4 linked regions of the Homo sapiens genome follow. The protein of the gene in region 2 interacts with the protein of the main gene of each other region in a pairwise test. Each region holds a gene or a part of one and is shown on either strand. Other genes may lie near its edges.

Evidence for each region.
Region 1: the proteins of CEP70 (region 2) and ZBTB24 interact in binary tests that used the Homo sapiens proteins (3 or more experiments, as listed by UniProt).
Region 3: the proteins of CEP70 (region 2) and IPCEF1 interact in binary tests that used the Homo sapiens proteins (3 or more experiments, as listed by UniProt).
Region 4: the proteins of CEP70 (region 2) and ZBTB16 interact in binary tests that used the Homo sapiens proteins (3 or more experiments, as listed by UniProt).

The regions. Positions count from the first base shown.
Region 1 is NC_000006.12:109,466,205-109,473,236, forward strand, and holds part of ZBTB24 (zinc finger and BTB domain-containing protein 24), read right to left. Parts: intron 1,531-7,032; coding exon 1,449-1,530; intron 371-1,448; coding exon 1-370. UniProt on the Homo sapiens protein: May be involved in BMP2-induced transcription.
Region 2 is NC_000003.12:138,584,241-138,591,272, forward strand, and holds part of CEP70 (centrosomal protein of 70 kDa), read right to left. Parts: intron 1-7,032.
Region 3 is NC_000006.12:154,346,774-154,353,805, forward strand, and holds part of IPCEF1 (interactor protein for cytohesin exchange factors 1), read right to left. Parts: intron 1-7,032. UniProt on the Homo sapiens protein: Enhances the promotion of guanine-nucleotide exchange by PSCD2 on ARF6 in a concentration-dependent manner.
Region 4 is NC_000011.10:114,251,684-114,257,270, reverse strand, and holds the end of ZBTB16 (zinc finger and BTB domain-containing protein 16), read right to left. Parts: 3' UTR 506-5,587; downstream 1-505. UniProt on the Homo sapiens protein: Acts as a transcriptional repressor. Transcriptional repression may be mediated through recruitment of histone deacetylases to target promoters. May play a role in myeloid maturation and in the development and/or maintenance of other differentiated tissues.

The sequences.
Region 1 (7,032 bases), on a different chromosome or scaffold from region 2:
ACTCTCTGCAGTCACAATGCTGATTCCCTGGCTAGGACCGGGCATGAAATTGATGTTATGTACAGAATCGGTTACGAGAAGCTGAATTTCCTGCTCTCCCGAGGTAGAGAGTTGATATGGCTGTAGCTGAAGAATATTCCTGACCTCTTCTGTATTACTACTGCCAGAAATGCTGCTGGCATCTGAAGCATGCTTCTCCTTGCTATGAATTTTCAAGTGAGCCTTCAAGTTGTCTAAGCGAGCAAACTGTAAGTTACACTCAGGGCAGGAGAAAGGCTTCTTGCCAGTGTGTAGAATGCAGTGTCTCCTTTTGGCACTGGAGTCAGAGAAGGATTTGCCACAAATGCCACAGGAGTATGGCTTTTCTCCTCTGTAAGAAAATAAACATTTTATTTTTAAAATGGAAATACCTACTTACTACTTCCTGATTATTTAGGGGGAAGCAATCAAGAGTAGTGGAAAATTAACTAGACTGCAAGTCATAAGTCATGGGTTCACCTACTAATTCAAGGACTTGAAGCAAGTCTCGCTTCCATGGGCAGTTTTTAATCTGAAAATAGGGTGTGGGTGGTGCCTGAGGAAGGGTGGCAGATGGGGCACGGCTATATATGATAAAATTTTATGATTCCACAGTATGTATTTCAGATAAGAAAAGAGAGTAAATATTTATACAATAAACATATAGTTCTCTTTTGTTTTGTCTTAGTTTTCAGAGCCAATTTTTAGACTCTAATGGCCCAATAAGTATCTATGATTAATGTCAATTTAAAAAATTTAAGCATCCTCTAATTATTTGTGATGCTGTCAGAAGAACTCCTAAGTCCAACCTGGGGATAACTGTGTAAACAAAAACATTTATTCAGAAAACATCAAATTTAATACTTATTTTTGATTGAAGATTTAAGCTTTGGACCAATCCGTAGCCCCAATCAAAATTTAATAAATGAAATCAGTAATGTAAACTTTTACTGGCCAGAATCAGCATTCCTTTTTACCTAGGTGAGGAATTTCATTATTGAAAAGATAAAACAAAATAGGCCAGGTGTGGTGGCTCACACCTGTAATCCCAACACTTTGGGAGGCCCAGGCAGGCGGATCACTTGAGGTCAGGAGTCTGAGACCAGCCTGGTCAACATGGTGAAATCCCGTCTCTACCAAAAAAATACAAAAACTAGCTGGGTGTGGTATCCCAGTTACTCAGGAGGCCACGGTGGGAGAATCGCCTGAACTCCCACCTGCACTCCACTCACACCACTGCACTCCAGCCTGGGCGACAGTGAGACCCTGTCTCAAAACAAACAAACAAAACAAAGCCAAAGTAATAAACTGCACACAAAATTCTGCAAAGTAACAACTGGGAGAAAACTATATAGGTAACACATGTCACCTCACTGAACAGCAGAACTGAATGAGGCCTCCATGCGAGAAAAATATCTGCAAAACTTTACCGATGGATTCTGATGTGGGTCTGAAGAGAACTCTTTGCTGTGAAAGATTTGCCACAGATTTCACAAGTAAATGGCTTCTCACCTAAAAAAAACAAAAACAAAAACAAAAAACCCAAAACAAAAAAACATTTAACAATATACATTCAGAATAAGACAAAATTAAAAAAACACTTCGGTTTCACAATATAAACAGAACAAAGGCAATCCCCTCCGTAAGCGTAAACGAATGATGCACTCACCAAATATCTACTCTGTAACTAACCTAAGCACTGTGTGCCGAGTGCCAAGAGCATACACAGAAATCGTAAGGCATGGTTCTCTTAAAAACCTGAAAACTGCAACAAGGAAGTGAGTTACACTGTATTTACTCCTGTTTTCTCCCCTTAGATATTACAGCACCTATGCTCTCCTGCCTTATTGCTTGGCTAGGTAGCCCACTTGACCCTGAAAGGACTCCTGTGTGCTAGGGTGAGTTATGTATTATTCATGTTTATATCAACCTTCCAAATATATCCAGAATCTGACCACTGCTCAGTACCTCCACTGCCACTCTCTTGTCCACACCACCACCATCTCTTGCCTCTTATGGGGTCTCCATTTCTGCTCTTGCTTCCCTGCCATAAACTATCAATATGGCCACCAGAGTGAGCCTTGATGCAGTCAGGTCATTTTATGCTTGGGCTGCAAATGTTCTGATGATTTCCCACCCCAGGATAAAACCCAAAGTTCTTGCCCTACAAGCGATCATAGATCTGTACCCCATAAACCCTACTCCTCACCCCAAACTTCCCGGATCTCATCTCAGGGTGTCTCCCAGCATGGTTCACTCTCCTCATCTCCTTCAAGTCTCTGTTCACATGTTATTTTATCAGTGAGGCTCCATCACCACCAAGAGCACTACAAACCTTGCCACGCACTCCTTAGTCCAATTCTCCAATTTAGTTTTTCCACAATGCTATTGCTGCCTCATATAATGTATAAGTTATTTATTATCCATTTCTTCCTTTTTAAGATAACTTGTGGGTATGTCTGCTCCTAGTACCCCAGTGCCGAGAATCTGGCCTGGCATGCCATTTCAGAAATCCCTGCTGAATGAACTTCATGGGAGTGGCACACCTGAGATGCTATAACTGCTCCAGAACCCACCAGGCTTCACTAACATCAGCAAGTGCTTATTCAGTGTGTTTGCATGCTGAACATACAATGACAGACTGTTCATGTTCCCCAGAAACAAAATTAAGTAATCCAATGCAGGCAAGAAAACTAAATTGGAAAAAAAGAAAAAAAAAAAAAAAGCAAGCAGCAAAATCCACTTAACTGGAGAACAGGAGAACAGCAAAGGATAAGTACAATTTGAAATGGAAGATGGTCAGTGAGCTTCCCTTTCACAGCATCTACTGGAAAATTCAGGCAAGACATTTCTCCAAGCTCCATCGAGGCAGAGGACAGCTGTAACAACTCGGATGAATCTGCATCTTTGCATCATGAACTCTTACCACTACAAAGATTAAAACCAGGCAACTGCCATAATCTGTCTATAGCTTTCTACATCAGAGCTGGGGCCTTCTCTGATCTTGGTTGGTTTTCTCCCTCTCCAGATTCAAAGACTGAGTACCTGCTGTTTGCTTGTGATTGTAAAATTCTTGTTGCAGTTTTCAGGTTTTTAAGAGAAAGAACAGCAACAATCATCCATAACAACATTAACTATACCATTCAGCTCCAGCTGAGTTTCTATTTCAGAAAGTCTGTCTGATGGCAAATGTTTTTTGAGGGTAAGTGTTTGCAGGAGCAACATCCTGCAGTGGAAGCTCTTTGAGGGAGTGAGCAGGACAGTGGGAAGGCAAATTTCCCTAGCCAAGGTCAATCTGCAGGGGGTCTTCCCGCTTAGTGGTTTCTGATCTGTTCCCCTGTGCACAGCTCTACCACCTTCAATGGAGACACCCATTCCTTAAATTTATTTAGTTCTCAAACACTGATAGACCATCAATAAAGTACACAGCTAAGAAACAAAAAAGAAACTTTTCTAATCTACTTGAGGAGATGCACAAACTAATTAAGTAACATAGGGCTGTGTTTCACTGAACATTAAAACGAGTGGCGTCAACAATTCTGAGTGCAGACAGGGTGCTGGATGGGGTGGGCAGGATCTGGCTAGACTGGAAAGAAGCCTGGGCCAGGGTACTAGTCTAAATAGTATGAGCAGAAGCTGGTGTCAGAAATGACTACACGGTGTGCACCAGTGACCAAGGATCACTGTCAGGAGTCAGGAGGCCAAGGCAACAGGAGCTATGAAATCCAGGCAGGGGACCTGTGGAGCCTCTGGAAGTTTTTAGCAGAATGACATGCTGAAAGTACTAAGAAAATACACCTGGGAATGATGAGGAGGGTGGGCTAGAGGCAGGAGGACCTCTAACAGGCTATGCACAAGGCCTGGACCAGGAGGTGGCAGGAGGCAGACGGAGAAGGATAAGGTAATAGGACAGGGCCTGAGAGGCATGGGGACCGGAAAGAAGTGTGTTACAAGAGGATTAGACAATAGCGATTAAAGGAAAAGGCAGAGACAGGAGTGTGATGAAAGGTTCCACCCAGGGTGATGTCAACAGAAGTACTGAAACAGCTCCAGGGTGTACTTCCAGACCCTCTTCTCAGCAGTTACTACACCAATCCCACCCACCCAGGGTGATGTCAACGGAAGTACTGAAACAGCTCCAGGGTGTACTTCCAGATCCTCTTCTCAGCAGTTACTCCACCGATCCCACCCCTACCCTTCCCCAGTGACTTAAATCCCGGACCCCACTCCAGATAGGATCGATGAGTCACTGCTTATTGGCATCACAGCTGGATTTCCCATGCCCACCTGCTGAAACCCAGAATAACATGGGGCATGACATGTTAATGACAACATCACCCAGCCCCTGTCCAGCCAGGCACAACAATCACAGTGACACCTCCCATTCCCTCAGCTGTCACATTCACCTGGCAGTCCAGTTCCGTCCGTGTGGACCCCTCAGCATCCTGCCTCCCACTGTGGACCACGGCTTTGTTTTTCTTAAAAAATTACTGTGTTCATTGTAAAAGAATCAAATATTGAAAATACAAAGAATATTAAAACTGCTCCACTATTCTCATCTCTTGAGACAACCAGTTAACAATGGCGAATATCTTTACAGACAAATCTGTTTATTTGCGGTCTTACTGTGTGAGGTCATCCAATGCATGCCGTTTGTCACATCAGTAAAGCCACACCACCATTTTAAAACCCTGTGCTGTGTACCATTGTGTGTACTGCCCCAAATTTACCTATCTAATCCCCTCCTGGGACATTCAGGTGGCTGTTAAGCTTGTTAAGTTATAAACAATGCTGCCTATGATGAATATCCTTAGGCAAACATCTTTTCACAATTGTGCAGTTTATGTTTTGGTAAGTATTGCAAAAGTTCCTTCCAGGGGGTTCCCAAATTATATTCCCACCAACAATAAATAAAGATGTGCATTTCCTCATGTACTTGCCAATCTTGGCAAAAAAGGGACACATGTCCATGATAACTGTGGATAGCATGGTTTGACACCTGTGTACTTGGCATTCCTATATGGTCTTCTCAGCTGTTTCCTGTCCTGTGTTCACACCTCTGCTGTGGCTCTGACCACGCCATACTGTTTCATAGTAGATGGCACGTAGACTCTGTAAGGGCATGTTATGGTGAGGGGCCCCCAGGTCTCAGGAAGATGGGAAGACCCCCAGGTCTCAACGTTAATGGATGGTCTCAACACACAGTTGAAGAGATTTGGGAAGCTTCAACTTCAAGCCACAATGAGGCTGTGAACAGAACTGTGACTTACTGAACTTTATCATTTGTTCCCTGACAGGGCCATCTACCTGTGAGTAGGAACCCTCAGGGCAGAATCAGTGTTTATGGAACACCATCCAGGAACAGGGACACTGGCGGGGTGGGACTGTGCTGTGGGGTCAGAGGTCACTCACCAGGCTTCTCTGTGACCTGGGCTAATTCCCTTGACTTGTTCCCAGCTCACCATGCAATCTTCTGATCACTAACTTGGCTTTCGGGTCACTAATGTGAGGAAGGAGGTGCTGTGGGCAACAGAAAGGTGTAATCCCTCTATTGAGTTGATATATCCTCTGGTTTATCTGTCCTGTGAACTCATTTGGCTTGATTGGGTCCCTGTAAACCTGACCAGTGCCAGGTATGGGGACAAGATGTGAGCAGAAGGGCCTGAGATGTGGTGACCTGGCAGGTACTGCTTGTCTGCCTGACACTTTGCCTCCATGTCAAAATGTGTTCACCTCCCTCACTGGGGATGCACTCCTAGGAAAGGGAACATCTCTAATTTGCCTTTGACTTCTCCAGTGCTTGGTGCAGGACATCTAACCCAGAGAGTTTGTGCCTAAAGATCTAAGAGATGAATGACAGCTCATCTCTAAGAGATGAAGTCTTGGTTTCCAGCTGAGCATGGCCCTGAGAGTAGGACTGGCACTTCTCACTCTGAATGCCCAGGGAGCAGGGAAATGGCACGCCAATGCCCTTCACCAACATTCAAGCAGATTCTCCATGCTGATGCTAGGGACAGATGGGTCATAGTTGCTGCTCTTGAAGAACCCCAATTTTTTGATAGGTTCAATTTCTTTTCATATTTCTAAGTCATGCAAACCACAGAGGCCCGTCTGTCTCCTTTTTAACTCATCACACATCTTCCACTTTCTGTTCTGCTTCTCAAAGTTGACAGGCTGAGAAGAGTTTGCTGGAATTATAGTGGGGGAGGTCTTCTGTTCCTTTTCATCCCCACTTCAAGTCCTACTGCTACTCACAAAGCCCAGAAACCTCACTCCCCCTTATGCTCAGGCAACAGAACCAAGGGGAAGTGCCTCTTCTGGCACTGCTCAGCATGACCAAGCCAGCTCCACGCTCCTCCACCACCGCTGTCTCCCTAGGGAACTCAGCACAGCGCCACCCACTATTTGCAGGCACATGTGCACCTGTGGAAATCCAGAGCTCTGGCTGCATCTCTCCCCCGAATTCTCCAGACCTGGAAATCTAATGATCTACCCCACACCTGCACATGGATGTCAAATAGACACCAACCAGTCCACAATCTAACTCCTGATCTGTTCTTCTTAGTCTTCCCTAGCTTTTCCTCCTCACAGTGGCTTTTGCCTCCTCTTTCAACTCCCACATCCAATCATGAGCGAATCACATGAATTCTTCCCTGGACTATCTCCAGAACTGGACCACCTGACACCACCTCTGCTGCTACTGTGCTGTTCCGAGCCCCACTACTGCACAGCCTCCTGATGGGTCTCTCTGCCTCCACCCTGGCCTCGCCCCCACCTCACAGGGTGGCTAGAGTGACCCTATTACAACCCTAAGTCATGCCATGTCACTCATCTCAGTAAAGCCATCTCCCTCAGAATAAAATCCAATCTTTACTGTGGCCTTCAAAGTACTTCAGCCCGAGTGCACCCTACAACTGTTGAGGGGTACTTTAAAAAACACCAATTCCCAGGCTCTGCCCAGGTGAAGTCAATCAGAATCTTGGCAGCTGGGACAAGGCTTTTTTTTAAAGCTTC
Region 2 (7,032 bases):
AGACCAATAACAACTAACAACATTGAAGCTATAATAAAAAGTCCTCCAGCAAAGAAAAGCCTCGGACTCCATGGCTTCACTGCTGAATTCTACCAAACATTTAAAGAATTAACACCAACCCTACTCAAACTATTCTGAAGAATGGAAGAGGAGGGAATACATCCAAACTCATTCTATGAGGCCAGTATTACCCTGATACCAAAACCAGACAAAGACATATCAAAAAAAAAAAAAAAAAAGAGAGAGAGAGAGAAAAACCTACAGGCCAATATCCCTGATTAATATTGATGCAAAAATCTTCAACAAAATACTAGCAAACCAAATTCAACAACACATTAAAAAGATCATTCATCATCAACAAGTGGGATTTATCCCAGGGATGAAAGGATGATTCAACATATGCAAATCAATCAATGTGATACATCATTATCAACAGACTGAAAGACAAAAACCATATGATCGTTTCAACTGATACTGAAAAAGCACTTGATAAAATTCAACATTCCTTCATGATTTAAAAAAAAAACCCTAAAAAAACTAGGTATAAAAGGAACATACCTCCACATAATAAAAGCCATGTATGACAGACCCACAGGCAGTATCACACTGAATCGGGAAAAACTGAAAGCCTTTCCTCTAAGATCTAGAACAGAACAAGGATAAAAAATTGACAAACCTTTAGCCAGACTATGAAGGAAGAAAGGAAAAAAGATTCAAATAAAATCAGAGATGAAAAAGGACTGGAATTGCTGTAGTTAGGACTAGAATTGCTCTAGCTAGAGATGAAAAAGGACTGGAATTGCTCTAGCTAGCAGTTAGACATGAGAAAGGAAAAAAAGGCCATCAAAATTTGAAATCAAATTATCCTTGTTTGCAGGTGACATGATCTTATATTTGGAAAAACCTGAAGACTCCACCAAAAAGCTATTTGAACTGGTAAACAAATTCAGTAAAGCTGCAAGACACAAAATCAGCTTAGAAAAATCAGTAGCATTTCTATAAACCAACAAGGACAATCTGAAAAAGAAATCAAAACAGTAATCCCATTTACAATAGCCACAAAGAAAATTAAACACCTAGGAATTAACTGAACCAATGAAGTAAAACATCTCTACAATGAAAATTATAAAATACTGATGACAGAAATTGAAGAGGCCACAAAAAAATGAAAAGATATTCCATGTTCATAGATTGAAACAATCAATATTGTTAAAATATCTATATTACTCAAAGCAATCTACAGATTCAATGCAAATGCCTAGCAAAATACCAATGACATTCTTCACAGAAATAGACAAAATAATCCTAAAATTTAAAGCACAAAAGACCCAGAATAGCCAAAGCTATCCTGAGCAAAAAGAATAAAACTGGAGGAATCACATTAACTGACTTCAAATTATATTGCAGAGCTATATTAACTAAAACAGCATACTACTGCCACCAAAACAGACACATAGACCAATGGAACAGAACAGAAAACCCAGAAACAAATCCACATACTGACAGTGAACTCATTATTGACAAAGGTGCCAAGAACATACATTGGGGAAAGAAAAGTCTCTTCAATGAATGGTGCTGGGATATCCATATGCAGAAGAATGGAACTAGACCCCTATCTCTCACCATATACAAAAATCAAATAAAAATGAATCAAGACTTAAATCTAAGCCCTCAAACTATGAAAGTACTACAAAAAAATTGGGGAAACTCTCCAGGACATTGGATTGGGCAAAGATTTCTTGAGTAATATACCACAAGCACAGGCAACCAAAGCAAAAATAGACAGGTGGGGTCACATTGAGTTAAAAAGCTTCTGCACGGCAAAGGAAACAACAAAGTGAAGAGACAACCCACAGAATGGGAGAAAATATTTGTAAACTACCCATCTGACGAGGGTTAATAGCCAGGATGTATAAGGATCTGAAACAACTTTTTTTTTTTGAGTCTCACTCTGTCGCCCAGGCTGGAGTGCAGTGGCACAATCTCGGCTCACTGCAACCTCTGCCTCCCAGGTTCAAGCGATTCTCCTGCCTCAGCCTCCTGAGTAGCTGGGATTATAGGCACATGCCACCACACTGGCCAATTTTTTATATTTTTGGTAGGAAATCAGCATATTAAAGAGATATCTGCACTCTCATGTTTACTGCAGCATTATTCACAAAAGCCAAGATTTGGAAGCAACCCAAGTGTCCACTGACAGACAAATGGATAAAGAAAATCTGGTACATATACATAATGGAGTACTACTCAGCCATAAAAAAAGAATGAGCTCCTGTCATTTGCAACAACATGGATGGAACTGGAAGTCATTATTTTAAGTGAAATAAGCCAGGCACAGAAAGACAAACATCACATGTTCTCATTTATTTGTGGGATCCAAAAATCAAAACAATTGAACTCATGGAGACACAGAGTAGAAGGATGGTTACCAAAGGCTGGGAAGAGTAACAGGTGGGCTGAAAGGAAGAGGGGATGGTCAATGGGTACAAAAAAATAGAAAAAAAGAATAAGATCTAATATTTGCTAGCACAATGGGTTGACTATATTCAATAATAATATAATTGCACACTTTTAAGTAACTAAAAGAGAATAATTGGATTGTTTCTAACACAAAGGATAAATGCTTAAGATGGTGGCTACCTCATTTACCCTGATATGATTATTATATATTATATGGTGTATCAAAATATCCCATGTAACCCATAAACATACACATCTGTGCACCCATGAAATTAAAAAAATTTTAAATTGTAAAAGTTCATATTAAAAAAAATCTCTACAGACAAGAAAAATATACTAGAAAGACGTGCTCACAAAACAGATAGGAACTATAACCTCTATATTAAAACAAACTAAAATACATGTAAAACTCTGTAAGACATAAACAACATAATTAGAAATAAAACTTGGAAATGAGCTGATAGAATCTAGAAATTAGTAACTTTTAAAAACTAATTATTTCTGAAATGAAGATTAAAGAAGGAAAATGAATGAGTAAAGACTACAGACAATGCCTTAAGAGAAATAGAGATTAAAAGGAAAACAATTTTAAAAAATTAAAAAGAAATGAAGAAGAAATATGAAAATGACAAAGATAGGCAAAGAAGCTCAAACATACACATAATAGTGGTAATTGAAAAAGAAAACTAAAACAACAGAACCAATTAAAAAAACTATAATTCAGGAAACTTTCCTGATTTTAAAATTCATACAGAGCTGCAAAAGATCTATAAAAGACAAAACAACTTTGAAAAAGAACAGGCTGGCCATGGTGGCTCACACCTGTAATCCCAGCACTCTGGGAGGCTGAGGCAGGAGGACAGCTTGAGGCCCAGGAATTCAAGACCAGACTGGGCAACATAGCAAGACCCCATCTCTACAAAAAAAAGATTAGCCAGGCATTGTGGCATGAACCTGTAGTCCTCGCTACTTAGGTGGCTGAGGTGGGAAGACAACTTGAACCCAGGAGTTTAATCAGTGAGCTATGATTGTGCCACTGCACTCTAGGCTGGGTGACAAAGCAAGACCCTATCTCTAAATTAATAAATGAATGAATGAAAAAGAAGAACAAAGTTGAAGGACTAATACTATATCATTTCAAGGTTTATAAAGCTATAGTAATCAAGACAATATAGCATTGATATCAAGATAGACAAACAGATTAATGAAACTAAATAGATTCCAGAAACAGACTCATACATATATGGACAACTAATTTTCACCAAAGATACGAAGGTAATTTAGCAGGAAAAACGATAGTTTTTTTTTTTCAATAAATGATGCTAGAACAATGGGATGCCCATGTACAAAAAAAAGAGAAAGAAACAGGACTTTCAGCCATATCTCACACCATATACAAAAAAATTAAAATGAATGACATAAATCTAAAACTTAAAATCACAACATGTCTAGAAAAACACAGAAAAACTGTATGGCCTTGAGTTAGGCAAACATGTCTATGATATGACACCAAAAGCATGATACAATTCAAGAACAAATGGGGCTTCATAAAAATAATGTCTGCTCTTTAAAATATAACATTCTGAGAATGAAAAGAGAAACCACATACTCAGAGAAAATAGTCAGGAATCAGAAAAGGTTCATATCCAGAATATATAGGGAACTCTCAAAACTTAGTAAGGAAGTTAACATCAACAAGAAGTAAACAACTGAACTTAAAAATGGTCAAAAAATTTCAATAGACATTTCACAAAAGAAGACATACAGATGGCAGCTAGGCACACAAAAAGATGCTAAACATTGTTAGTCAGGAGGGAAATGCAAATTAAAACACACGATGTGACACCACTACACATATTAGAATGGCTAAGAATGACTAGACCAAGTGTTTTCGAGGATGTGAGGGAACTAGAACTCTCATATACTGCCGACGGGAATTTAAACTAGTACAACCACTTTGTAAATCACTTTGGCTATTTCTTAAAAGGTTAATAAGCACTTACCATAAGACCCAGTCATGCCATTCCTAGAATTTACCCAAGAGAAATGAAAGCATTATGTCCACACAAAGACTGTACACAAATGTTCGTAAGAGCTTTATCTATAATAGCCAGAAACTGGAAACAACTCAAATGTCCAGCAGCAGGTGAACAGACACACAAACTGTGGTATACCCATTGGATGGAATACCCCTCAGCAATAAAAAAGAATATGTGCAACATGGATAAATGTCAAAATAATTACGCTGAAAGCCAGCCATAAAATAGTACATACTATAACATTCCATTTATATAAAACTCTAGAAAATGAAAACCAACTGTGGTGATAGAAAGCAGATCAGTGGTTGCTGAGAGAATTGGAGGCTAGACACAGAGACTACTAACGAGAACAAGGGAATTTGGGGGGATGATGGATATATTGACAATCCTGATTGGGGTGGTTTCATAGGTGTATATGTAAGTCAAAACTTATACTACATATGTGCAGCTTATTGTATATTAAATATATCAATAAAGCTGTTTTAAAAATAAAGTTTTCCTGAAATTTAAAAAAAGATTTGAAACTACAAATGGAAAGAAAATATGAAGTACCTGAGAATACTGACCCAAAACAACCAACACAGTGATATATTCTAATATTATTAGCAGACTTTAATGAAAAAGAAAAAATTTGGCTGGGCGTAGTGGCTCATGCCTGTAATCTCAGCACTTTGGAAGCCTGAGGCAGGTGGATCACTTGAGCCTGGGTTCATGACCAGCCTGGGCAACTTGGCAAAACCCTGTCTCTCAAGAAAAAAAAAAAAAAAAATTAGCTGGGTGTGGCAGCATACACCTGTAGTCCTAGCTACTCAGGAGGCTGAGGTGGGAGGACTGCTTGAACCCAGGAGGTGGAGGCTGCAGTGAGCCAAGATCATACCACTGCACTACAGCCAGGGTGACAGAGTAAGACTGTATCTCAAAAAGAAAAAAAGAAAACAAATTATTTGGTTATCTACAAGAAAAAAACCCACATGACTTATAAGAAGAAGAAAAATTAGATAATAATCTGACTTTGATACCAATACTTTATTCCAGAAGAAAAAGGAGTAATGTATTTAAGAAATTCACGGAAAAGAAGTGTGAGCCAAAGACTTTATATCTGCAAAATTGACTTTGAAGTATAAAAAGAATAAACTTTGATCAATATATAAGAACTCAGACAATATTACTTCCCGAGGAATCTAACAATGTATTAGCTTCAGGTAGCCAAAATGCCTAGAGAGACCTCAGCATAAACACTGGTGGTAAACATTAAATATATTAATAGAACTAATAGGCTAAGAGGGAAAAAGCAGAACATGAAATGGCTATATACTCTGACAATGCAGATAGAGCATAACTGTTAAAACAGAGAGAGAAGAAAAAATGAGAAGAACATAAGCCAAAAAAAAAAGGTTTAATGTTTTCAGTAATCATATTGATGGTGATTTCAGAAATATAGTTCTGATACTGTCATATGTATAATACAGAATAATGAGTAAATATGGAATATTCTATTTTCTCCTATATTCTTGAGAATCATGATTCTCAGTATGGAAAAAAGGAGTTACAGTTGTGATAGAGAAGTTGTTAAGTAAAAGCTCTGTAATCTCAATCTGAAGACTGGAAGTAGAATACATTAGGTATCTTTTAACATGTGTGTCTATAGACAGATACAGGTATCCTAGCTCTGTCTACTGAAATGCCTGAAACAGTGACTAACTCAGGATCTTTAGCATTCAGACTGTAACTGAAATATTATTTCCCTCTAAATGAAACCCGGGCATTTTAAAGAAATGGCTGATTTCATATCTGCGATAGGAATTGTTCAATATATTATATAACAAGGAAGCTATCAAAAACTAGGAGGCCAGGCTCACAGTGCAGCTTGGCCAACATGGTGATACCCCGTTTCTACTAAAAATACTAAAAAAAAAAAAAAAATAGCCGATCCTGGTGGTGTGTGCCTATAATCCCAGCTACTTAGGAGGCTGAGGCAGGAGAATCACTTGAACCCAGGAGACAGAGGTTGCAGACAGCTGAGATCGTGCCACTGCACTCCAGCCTGGACAACAGAATGAGACTCTATCTCATAAATAAATAATAAAAAAAAAACAGGGAAGTGATTACTACAAAACTATAAAACCCAGAAGAATGGTGACTAAATGGGAACACAGGAGTTTTGACTGGGATAGGGTAATGGAGGGGATCTGGCATACCTGAATGGTATGGTCCTGTAATAATTTATTAAGCTATACATTTGGTATGTGATTTATAACAAAAATTTCATTTTACGCTAAAAAGATTTTGTTAAATAACAAAAAATAGAAAAGTAAAGGAAATGCTAACCTAACCAAAATAAAGCTGGTACGGGTTGAACGTTCCTAATATGAATATTTGAAATCCAAAATGCTCCAAAATCCAAAACTTTTTGAGCACCAACTTGACACCACAAGTAGAAAATTCCACACCTGACCTTATGTGACAGGTCACAGTCACAACTTCATTTCATGCATAAAACTATTAAAAATGTATAAAATTAGCTTCAGGCTGT
Region 3 (7,032 bases), on a different chromosome or scaffold from region 2:
GAACAACATGAGGAACAGCCCCCATGGTCTAATCACCTCCCACAAGTTTCCTCCCCCAACACGTGGGGATTACAATTTGGATTACAGTTCAACGTAAGATTTGGGTGGCCAGACTCTATCCCTATCCAAGCATATCCTCTCAAAACTCTGCCTTCCTATTTTTTAATCTCTGTTTTCTTCCCCTTTTCAATCTATATTATTAGAAACAAATGCTCCATCACCCTCAACCCCAATTCTCCTCAGCTTTGATCTGGAAGTGTCTTTGGGAATGAGATTTTCCTCAAGGCTCAGGCAAATCTGGGCTGAGCACTCCTAAAATCATTATTCACCCAAACAGGCTTCCTCTGGCCTCTCTGGGGTTGGATTATACACATTCTCAGCTCCAGGAATGGAAAGGTGGACAAGCACAAAGCAACCTTATCCAAAAATAAGAAATTATGTAGCATCCTTTTCCTTATATTATAGTATATTCCCTCAGGACAGCTATATACTGGACGCTCAGGTCAAATAAGCCTAGGCTCAAATTCTGACCCCAGAGTCAAACTGCTGGGGTTGGAACCCTGACTGTACTATTTCTGGGTGACCTTGAGCCAGGTTTGAAGTTCCCTGAACCTGTGTTTTCTCATCAGAGAAAGGGAACTAGTTAATAATAACAGCACTTCCTAGAGCTATTTGATTAAAAAATTAGATAATGAATGTAAAGCCTTTAACACCGTCCCTTGCAGACAGCAAGAGGACAGTACATGTTACCTCCATGTGCCACACAGCCAGTGGGGCTGGGGAAGCCCTGCATGGCCTGTTGGAAAAGCTGCAATTATCAGGTTGGTGCAAAAGTAGTTGCAGGTTTTGCCATTAAAGACTACTTTTTCACCAGCCTATAGAAAGAAGGGGTCCTCTTGGACTCTATTTTCTGCCTTGCTCTAAGGCTCACCTCAGTGGCTCCTACTGCCCAGAAAGTTCCAGGCATTGCCTAGAATATTTCATAGGCCAGGAGCATCCATCCATTGGCAAAAGGCCACCTCCACAATGATAGGAAACGTGAGCTCGTGGGGAGTGGACAGTGGTTTGGTGCTCAATGCCTGAAGTCCATTGAGATTGACAGAGGGATCGCTTGCTAACTTGCTCCCAATGCACAGAACACAAAGAGGATGCAATGCCCGGTGGAAATTACTACACCCCATGTCTAGGACCCTGTGACTACAGCTAATGCCAACTTGAAAGCAAAGTCACTTCAAGGCAATCAGGAGTCGCTGAGCCTTCATTGCTCAGCCCACTTACTGTGTTTTGGTGACTCGGTGTCTCTCTCCCCGTGCTGGCTTCTCAGCTCAGAATATCTGGGACTCCAGCGTTCCTCTCAAGGCAACTAATTTGTACATAACTTTGGAATGTTTGTGAGTGTTCACAAAATAAAACTGAATAGTACTCGAGTGCCTGGCTCAAACCTTGCTCCACAGTCCCTCCCTCAAGTCCCCATTACCTACGCAAAAGCTGCTCTAGTTGATTAATCAAGTTGAAAATCCAAGTGTGGAAAACTCTGGTAGCTGTGTTCCAGAGTAAAATCCAGCTCTAGCTGGAAAACTGTGAGTGTATTTGACCAAGAGAGTTCAAGTTCAGGCACTTCTCTTTGATAGACTGGCTATAACTGAGTCTAACCAAGAGGCAATACTAATTCACACGATTCCAGGGGAATTTCAAAGGTGATCTTGTCCATTTAATTGCAGTGAAATACCTGGCACATTACGTGGAAAATATTAGGTACTCAATAAGTATTTGGTGAAGGTTGAATATTCGTAAGTGGGTCCTTATCATATTATATGGTCAGCATTCACAACCACTAGTAAGAACAACTGCTTGACTATTTTTTGTCAGGATGGAAAAAGAGGTTGGGATTTGTGCCTTAACAAGGAACCAGAAAATAAGGTCTTTAATATCATTTGCTTCAGGCTTTTAATCGGTGGAAAGAACAAAGTTGTTACAAATGACTTGCACTCCCAGCGAATAAACAGCAACGTTCCTGCAACAACCATTTAATCTATTAGAATAGTAGAATCTTCAAACATGTTCAAGAAATGGATGAGATTATATATATTCTCATCAGTCCATAAAACTATTACAGATTTATCCAATAGTGTGCTGTAGTCTGAGCTATTCAAACAGAATAATCATAAACAAGTAGCCTAAAATGCATGGTTTTCATGTTTACAGCCGTTTGCTTAGTTTTTCAAATAATTAAAGGTTTTCTCCTTCAAACATAACTTTGTATAAAGTACAGCTTATCTCTGGATAAACTGTGACACTTTACAAAGAATTATATTCTTTAGGAGTGAATAATGTTAAATTAAGGTTCCTGGGAAATGTTTTGAGTTGGTTTCATCTTTTTTCCTTTCTCAGAGGTTTGTATTATTTTATCTTATTATTATTATTATTATTATTATTGAGACAGGGTCACTCTCAGTCACCCTGGAATGAATGCAGTGGTGCGATCATTGCCTACTGCAACCTCAATCTCCCAGGCTCAAGTGATCCTCCTGCCTCCATCTCCTGAGTAGCTGAGACTACAGGCATGCTCTACCACACTTAACTAATTTTATTTTATTTTATTTTATTTTATTTTATTTATTTATTTATTTTAGTACAGACGAGGTCTTGCTATACGTTGCTTGGGCTGTTCTCAAACTCCTGAGCTCAAGTGATCTTTCCACCTCAGCCTCCCAAAGTGCTGGGTCAAATTCCTGATTTCAAGTGATCCTCACACCTCAGACTCCCAAAGTGCTGGGATTATAGGCATGAGCCACTGTGCCTGGCCTATTTTCCTGTTTTAGACTAAGGTTCAGTCTCTATTAATATATGTACATTTGCCTATAAGTAGTTAAATGTTCTATTCCTCTCTGGCGTTACAGATCAGTGCATAAAACTCTGAAGAATGCAGTTTCCTTCACAATAGTCAGGAAAAAAAGAACTTCTACCCTGTCCAAATTTGAAAAAATCTATCCAGTCACAGATTTCTACTGCATAGTTAGAAAAAGATTATATAAAATTAACAAGTCTAAAGAAAATTAAATATGGATCAATTAAGAGGAGGAGAAAAAAGATATTTTTAGTTTTACATAGATTAAATGTATTAGCTTCCTATAATGATATTTACCTGTTAAAAGAATGTTGTTCTGCTGGGGATAATCATGTAATAGGAATTAGGGTAATTCAAATTCTGCTGAAAAGGGGATTTAAGAGATTCTTATGTCACAGGGAAACTCAAGAATATGCTTGAAATCCTGGCTATTTATGCTGTCATTAAAGTACTTATGCAGGTACCAGCCTAAATTTATGGATCAAAGTGATCAACGATTACAGATGAACCACTAAAATGATCTAACATCCATTTATTGAGAAGTTTCCACTTGCTGTACACTTAAATTGCAGCCTTAGATTTTATATTTGGATCAAAGTTCCATCACATTGCATCATTTTCAGAATATTTGAACTTTTATTTCAATACAAACTGAGGTAAATAAATATCCCCCCCAAATAGACGCTGATGTTCCATATCTAACAAGTAACCAAATTGTCATGATAATCTGGGATCACTATCTAGACTCCATTTATGAAAGAAAATCTTTTATAGATTTCACAATAGCCTGATTTTCATTTTGTAAATGTGTCTCATTGTTGAGAGTGTCTTTATTCACTCCCATTCAATGATGAAGTGACTCTACTGTTTGAGGCCCAATGCCACAAGTTAACTTCATAGAAATGAGTCACGTCCAATTTGGCCCCTAGAAGTGCTTGCCAGCAATACAGATGGGCTTATTACTAGCACATAAAATTACTTTCATTCTTTACCTCCTGTATTAGCTTCCAAGAAGGGCTCCATTGGTTTATAATATTTTTGTTTTCTTCTAAGTATATACGCTTACTTTCATTTGGCCCATACATCAACGCAATTGGTTAGTTTTTTTATTTTTTCAGAGACAGAGTCTTACTCTGCTGCCCAGGCTGTACACCAGTGGCACAATCATAGCTCACTGCAGCTTCAAACTCCTATGCTCAAGAGATCCTTCTGCCTCAGCCTCCTGAGTAGCTGGGATTACAGGCACACATCACCACACCTGGCCACATTTTTTTGTTTTTGTAGAGATGGGATCTTGCTTTATTGCCCAGTGGGTCTTCAACTCCTGGCATCAAGCGATCCTCCCAACTCCGCTTCCCAAAGTGCTAGGATTACAGGCATCAACCACCCCACCTGGCCTGGTTTGGTATTTTTATCTCAGCTTTTATAGATGAGACAACTCAAGCGTGGAGAAGTTAAATGCTTGCTTGTAGCGCAAAACTATCATATACTACAGGCAGGACACTCAAGTCTCCTAGCCTTTTGATCTGCGGTGTTCCCGCTAAAAAATTGAGCCTAATAGAAGGCCCCATCAATATGGGTCCAATGATACTCAAAATGGAAATTGAATATTTTAAAATTAGATTGGGTATTGTTATGAAAGAGCAGCATGAGGGATCTTTGTGGTGACGGAACAGTCACATATCTTGACTGTGGTTGTGAACTACCCAGGAATGGTTCTGAGGTCCCCCCAGTCCCCTTTTGTTCCCTGCTGGCTGGAAGCATTTCCTACGTGGTACCACCTGACTGCCTAAGAAGACAATCACGGATGTGCAATCATGTCAAGGCACAGGCAGTTTCCTGGAAAAAAGAACAACTCCTTTCCACTATCTCTTCACTAAGGAATAGAAAAGAATTTCACTTGGGCGATTTTAAAGTAGAGAGCAAATCTGCTCTGCTCAGACTCGCCCTTGGTGTCAAATCACTATTTATATAACAAAACCTTTAACATAAATGAAAACAATGTAATGTGTAGAATGGTAGACCACAGGCTCAGAGACACAAAGGTCTGGGTTTGAATCCCTCTCCCCTGCCTATTGTGGTGGTTTGAGGCAGGGGACTTTACCTCTCTAAGCTTCAATTTCATGGAGATAACAATAGTACTATTTCCCAGAACTGTTTTAAGAAGTGGCTTAAATAGCATAAAAAGGAACAAGATCATGTCCTTTGCAGGGACATGGATGGAGCTGGAAGCCATTATCCTCAGCAAACTAACGCAGGAACAAGAAACCAAATACCGCATGTTCTCACTTACAAGTGGGAGCTGAACAATGAGAACACATGGACATAGGGAGCGGAAAAACACACACTGAGGCCTGTGAGGGCCGGGGGAGAGGGAGAGCATCAGGAAGAATAAGCTAATGGATGCTGGGCTTCACACCTAGGTGATGAGTTGATCTATGCAGCAAACCACCATGGCACACATTTACCTATGTAACAAACCTGCATATCCTGCACATGCACACTGGAACGTAAAGTAAAAGTTGAAGAAAAAAAAAAAGAAATTGTAAATGTAACTAAATGTAAATGTAAACTAAAAGGTAAAAATAAAAGTGCAGATCACAGTGTCTAGAACCTAGCAAGTGCTCAGTAATATCATTGGTTTTTTATTCAGCATTCCACGTATGAAATATTCAGAAAATGCTATAGAATCTGTTGGGAATCCTATCTTGCTGCTGTTTCTATTTCAATGCTTAGTGCATGCTGGGTTTTTGTTTCTTCAATTAATTCTTTCATTTCTAACTTGACTTAGTTTTCCTTGACGATCTGGTCATTTTTTTATTCAGACTTCTTTTGAAAGACTCATCCACATTCTAGTAACTTTGGGCTGAGTTTAAGCTGGCTCACTTTTCACCTTTCAGCTGCTTCTATGTCAATCCCTGTGTCAGTCTGGGAGACCTGTCTTTGCTCACATTTGTTCAGCCCTTTGCCTTTTTGTCTGCCGACTATCTCTCCTTTCTAAGACAAAGATTGATTCTAAGACAAAGACAGAAGATTCTTTTCAATGCCTACAAGCCAAAATATTTTATTTTGGTTACGTCCCTGATAAGGGACTCCATGGTGACCTGCTGGCCCTGTGAGACGGCAGGGCCAAGATTCTAACAACAGGAATGATAATTCTTGAATCTATAAAATAATCTGTGACTCTATAGAAATGTTTTTATGACCTCTCCCTATGAGTACCAAGATGATAAACATATGGCAACATTCCCTAAGAAATGTATTAACAATTATATTGGGAGATTTAAATTTAACTTATAATTAATAACTGACAAATTGACTATTGCATTTTTTAGGAAATCATCAAACTCAGGTTTAGACGCAGTTATAAGTCATCCAGAGAAAATAACCCATTTTCATGTCATTCTAGGAATTAATCAGACCAGCCAGCCCCAGTGGGACCACGTTTCCTTTTTCTCACTTCAGAGTTGACACATGATTCTGCACCAGCCTTACTCTCAAAGGGGATTTCCCTACAAAGACTAAATAACATAAATTTTAAGTGTCATTTCTTAGACTGCAATGAACCATGAACTTCAGCACACTATCACTAAAACATTGCTTTTGTCGTCCTGTTGGTGGAAGATTTAAGGAGGGTTACATTTTTGTCCATTTCTTTTCTTTTCCTTTTCCTTTTTTTTTTTTTTTTTTTTGAGATGAAGTCTCCCTCATTGCCCAGGCTGGAGTGCAGCTGCGTGATCTCGGCTCACTGCGCCTCCCGGATTCAAGTGGTTCTTGTGCCTCAGCCTCTTGAGTAGCTGGGATTACGTGCGCCCGCACCATGCCCAGCTAATTTTTGTATTTTTGGTAGAAACAGGGTTTCGCCATGTTGGCCAGAGTGGTTTGGAACTCCTGACCTCAGGTGATCCGCCCGCCTTGGCCTCCCAAAGTCCTGGGATTACAGGCATGAGAGCCACCGCACCCGGGCCTATTTACTTTCTTTCAACGTTTGTTTTATTTTCAGATTATTAAAATAGTTCAGGTATGTTCCACTAATGAAAAATCTGGGAAGAAAATAGAGTACAAAGTACAAAGAAAGAAGAACCACGAGCTATAAGCCCACTACTCATATATTAACATTTTAATGCATTTCACCCAAATCTTGCTTCTCTGCAGTATTTTTACATAGTTGAAAAAGTTATGTT
Region 4 (5,587 bases), on a different chromosome or scaffold from region 2:
AAGATTGTCCGGTGGTAGGGGTAGCTCCAGGCGGTTTCTGCTCAGCAACCCCAGGGTCAGACAGACCCGGGTCTTGGCCCCAGGAGAACAGGGCTGAAAGGTAACCCTCCCAGTGCCACCCCTGGCAGGCCAGGCCTTGTTTGGCTCCCCAGGTGGGTGGCGGTGGCGCGTGGGGTGATGGCTCCCTGCGACTCCTGGTGATGCTGGAGGCCAGGCCTGATGCTCGGTGTGGGTTTACCCTACCGGAGTGACCCAGCACGACAATCATGGCTGTGTCCCCTGGGTCTTGAGGAGGAGAGGGGTTATTTTGGTCAGAGACAGGCAGTGAGGACGGCCTCAGGCAGAGGTGCTGAAGCACCACGTCTAGGATTGAGTGGCTTTGGTTTTACAGCTAAAGATAGGGCGATGCTTCTATCCCCGATAAGAGGAACGGGGAAAGGGCCAGAGAAGAGGGCTTGGCCCAGACACAGGGAGATGAGACAGGGAGGGAATCGTACCCATTGAGTGTTGTGGAAATCCTTTATTCCGTCCATGACAATGCAGAGCTTGCACGGCCACCTCCCACCCATCCCCTCCCCTGCACAAGGCCACCTGCTCCAATCTCCTTTCTTAACAGCTCTTGGCTGCTACAGACGCAGGCAGGGACCTTTGATTGTGTGGAAGCTTCTTGTTGAGAAATTTCTGAAGCTTGCTTAGCCACTAAGGAGTCAGTTGAAAATGTCTCTCTAAAGACTAAAGAAGACGTGAGACCCCTGCTTTGAGAACTCTGGAGTAAAGGAACCTGGCCTGGTATCAGGAGAGGTGGATGGAGTTCTGACTGCTGCTCACCAGCCGTGCAATCCTGAGCAAGTTATCCTAACACAGCCACGGATTCCGACTCAGCGGCCCGCTAGCATGGTAGCCCCAGGGCGGCCAGGGTTTGTCTGTTTGTCCTTTGCTGTAATTCCCAGCGCCGACAACAGTAACTGGTACATGGTGGTCTTGCTGAATAAGTGAACAAGTGCCTACCTAGCACATTGTACCAAGGATCATACGATATTAACGTATTTAACATTTTTTAACTAAAAAGTATTAGAAAAATGTTATTCAGTGCATCTGTGCCTTGTAAATGTGGCATAAAAGTGACACATAGATAAGTCTAAATATGTGTAATACAGAGCTTTCTTTTTCCCAGTCCCCACACAAAAATCTTAATTCCTCTACCATGTTCCCCACACAAGAAAAGGCAAAAAAAACAAAAAAAAAAAACAAAACAAAACCAAGTACTTCAATAAAAAGGTGGGACGCTTCAAGCGAGAGACAACTGAATTAACTTTATTCTCTTCTAACTGCAGATTCAAGGTATACAACTGAACATTGCTATTTTTCTTATGAGACTTATAAATAAAAATACAAAAAATGTTCACTACAAAAAAATCTACTGTTAGTAGGATGTAAAAAATATTCTCTTTGCTATAGAAGGCACAAACTTCACTTAGTGACACATGGAGAGAGAAAAAAACCTGCAGCAGTAAATTCATTTTTTCTTTTTTTTTCCTTTTTTTTTTTTTTTAAATCTTGTCAGAAACACTGAAATTACAAAGAAACGCGTCAATCTACACGAAACGAAGGCAGATGCGGAAAGCTGCAACCAGGACTGCACAACTTCGAGTGAAACTGCTTCGGAACTAGAACAGATAAGGAGCGGCAAGCACAACTCGGGGAAGTGGGCTGGGGAGGGGGCAGCAGGAGGCAGGAGAGAGGGAGAGAGAATGGAGTGGACAGAAATGAGACGGGGAGCCAGAGGGAGGAGGGGAGGGCGGGAGAGGGAGATGGAGAGGGCAAGGGTGAGAGGTGGGGAGGAGAGAAAGAGAGAAAGAGATTGATTTGTACAAAAAAGTAACCAGTAAAATTGAAGAAACAAAATTGGGCAACCTCCTAAAATTAGGCTAAGAGGAGGTGCTGAGGTAGACATTAACTAGAACATTGATGAATTAAAAACACTATTCTGTAATACAGAGCAATCCGACTGGCACTTGTGCTATCACGACATAAGACAAGCCACAAAAACAAACAAATAACAAAACGAAACATAATACCCAAACCAAAAGGCTTAGTTTTGCTTGGTCCAGCAGGGCAGCAGGGCCCTCAGTGCTATAATTTACATACATATATATATATATTTATCTTTATATATACGGGTTGGATGTCATGGTGCACCACCACGGCTTCTTAACCTTACGAAGATCATGCATAACACTATGTGAACAAATCCTATGATACACACCAGGAGGCTGGTACCCTGTCTGCGAAGTTGGATGCCAAGGGCCCGGGGAGGCCGCAGCTGCTGGCTAACCGGCCTGCAGGGCCTGCACCCCTCTTTCTCCCCACCCTTTTCCCCTGACCCAACCTCTCTGGTTTGTCCTGCACCCCTCTCCTGGCCATCTCTGCCTTTTTCCTCTCCCCATCTGTCCCACCGCGTAGGGTGAGTCTCGCCTTTCATCCTCCCACTGAAATATCCAGGTAAGTGCCACCATTACAGCCAAGCCGGCAGAGGCTCCAGGAAGGAGGAGGTATGATGGGAGGGGGAAAGATGACCACAGGATGGGCCTAGGAAAAGTGAATGAACAGAGTCTCATCTTCTGCTTTTCTGTCTCACATCCTGGTGCGCCCCCAGTTTTCACCCTAGCTCGGCTTGCCGGGAAGCAGGCCCAGAAACTACCCTGACCCTGCCAGCCGTCATGGACAGAGTCGAAAGGCTGCCCCACCTCTGCTCTCTCCCCTATAGGGAGGTAAGCTCAATGGCCCTCTTCCATCCACAGCAATTGTACCAATAGCATCCAGAAAGGTACCATACACTTGTGAAAAATTGCAGCAGTTTTTTTTTCTTTTTTTTCTCAACATGGAAAAACTGTTCAGGCACAAAGATTAAACAAGCCCGCGTTGCATCCCTTGGATTGTACTGAATCACTGGGTCCCCCAGCCTCCCTACCTACCCCTGCACCCCAGATCTGCCTTCCCCATATTCATGGCCTCCTCCTCCAAAGCAGCCCAAAGCAGCAATGATATTTACTATTTTATATCAATCTCTTGCTATATATATATATATCTATATATCTATATATTTGTCTATCCTATATATACATAGGATTTTAATGCTTTGAATGAGTGAAGGAGTGAATAGGGAAAGAGCACATGAGGTGTAAATGTCACCAAATGCATTAAGGGACATATTTGTAGGAGCTGGACATGGGAAAGGGACTATTAACCAACGTGGCCTTGCCAGGCTGGAGAAGTTTTTCACTGTGCTGGATAAGGCAGTAGCAAGCAGGGTTGTCAGCAGTACCACAGCTAAAGGCAGCCAGGGGGCCGAAGGAGTCAGGTGGCATGAAGAAGAGGGGAGGACAGATATTCAGATCCCACCTGGGGAGAGACCCCTGTCTACCCTCCTCCTCTCCCCTTAACTCCAGACACATATAAAGCCTCCAGACAGCCTCTTAGCTTGCCCCCTGGCCACTAGGCCGTGCAACATTAGAACTGTTCTGTTGTTGTAGGTAGGAAGTTGGAGAAGAGGCATGTTAGACTCTATTCAGGTGTCTTCATGGGGAGAGGAAGGTACAGTAAGTTCAGAGGTGTCCCCAGACAGTAGCCCTCAGAAACCACACTCCCCTGAGCTCTCCCCATACCTCCCTACTGGGGTCTGCAGGGCCCACGGGGTTGGGTGGGGCATCCAGGTGCTGATTTAGTACCATCCATTGCTGCAACACCAGATTACGACAATACTGCATGATTTAACACACAACCACACACACAAAGCACACGCGCACACGCACATACATGTACAAAGGGATATTTTGGTGGTGGTGGATTTTTTTTTGTCTTTTGTCTTCCTATTCACATTACAAAAGGAAAGGGCAAGGTTCTGCAGAACTGACGAAGGAACTAACAGATACTACAAAAATATTACAATTTGTGAAGATTAGCTCAACCCTCTCAGCTTTTATGAATGGAGCGGGGAGGGGCCCAGGCTGAGTGGGAAGGGCATGGGAGTGAGGGGGCCAGCTAGTTCTATGGAATAGTTTGATTTTTTTCTCTTCCTTCCCCACCAATGTTGAATGACATCTTGCTGTTAAAAATACTGTTTTCTGGGATTTACAGATCCCCTGAGGGCCAGCCAGTCCCCGCTTCTTCCCAGACCAGAGGAGGAAGCCATAGTGCATAATGATTTCTTACAGACGGCCCCTCCCCCAAATGATTTCACCCTTTTCACATTATAAACATGACAACTGTTCTAGTCACGTATTTCAAGTTTAACTTCTTTTCCTTTCCAAAACACTAAGTCGTTACTATAGTTGCAAAATAGCATCCTCCCTACTTTACCATCCCTAATCCACAGTCTAGTGACACCGTCCTCCCAATTCACATCCTCCCAACACACAATTTTAAGGCCTTCAGATTTGGTGGATGAGATTGAAGGGGAGGGCAGGAGGGCTGGGGCCGAGGGACGGGGGGGTCGTCGCAGCAGCACCCATCCCTCCGGCTTCCCTACATTCCTCGTGATCCTTCTCCCCAAAACCGCTTCCCTAAACCACTTTGTAAAACCTAAGATCAAAACGCAGCCACAACTTTCTCAGAGAGAGAAAGGAAAGAAAAAATAATAATAAAAAACTCTTACACATAAAGCATGAGATGAAACGGAGGGTCCGTCCCAAAGCAAACACGAATATTGCAAATGTGCTTTCCAAAATTCAGGAGGGTCGGGGGAGGTTGGGGAAAAGAGGGAGGAAGAGCAGCAGAATGGGAGGCGGGAAAGGAACAAAAGAACAACTGGACAAACATAAGAGGTAGCTTTTAGAAAAACAACACCCCCACCCCAACACAACAAAACAAAGGCTGGATCCCGCCCCCCTCCCCAAAGACCAGCCGTGAAAATAGACCAATTCTGGCAATGAGAATGCACGCACAGAGGTGAGACCACACAGTTGCAAGGATCCAAACACAGGCCCTCAAACCTCAATGGCCCAGCAAATTGTAAGAAAGGTGGGATTCTCTCCAGAGTGTTTTAGGCGGAACGGATGGTGGCCACAGGTGACTTCATGCACCAGCGGAGCCAAAAGTGACTCCCTAGTGCCCTCTGGGGACCATGAGACCCCAAAGCAACATCCCCTCCCCACCCACGCTCTTCGCCCTCCTCGGCCCTCACATTCAGATCCTGAGTATCAACTCCTCCTGCACAGTTCCTGCCAGCTGGGAGGCTGGTCTCCAGGGGCACGGGGAGGGTCTTGACCAGCTGAAGTCTATAAAAACAACTATTAATTTACACAAGAAACAGAAAAGAACACCCTCCCCATTCCTCCAAGCCCCAACCGAAAAAGAGATACAGAGGTTAAGAAAGCTCATGAGGTCACAAAAAACTGAGGTAATTCAAGTACAATGTGCTAACAGGGGACACAGAAAAGAAGCAAAACATAACACAAGGCCAAAGCGCTTTCAAATCCTCCTCCTCCTGCAGCTCCTCCCCCTCCTTCTGCTCCTCCTCCTCCTCCTCTCCACTGTGGACCGAGGGGCGCTGTGAGTCAGGAATTCTGTGCGACTCTCTCTGGACCTG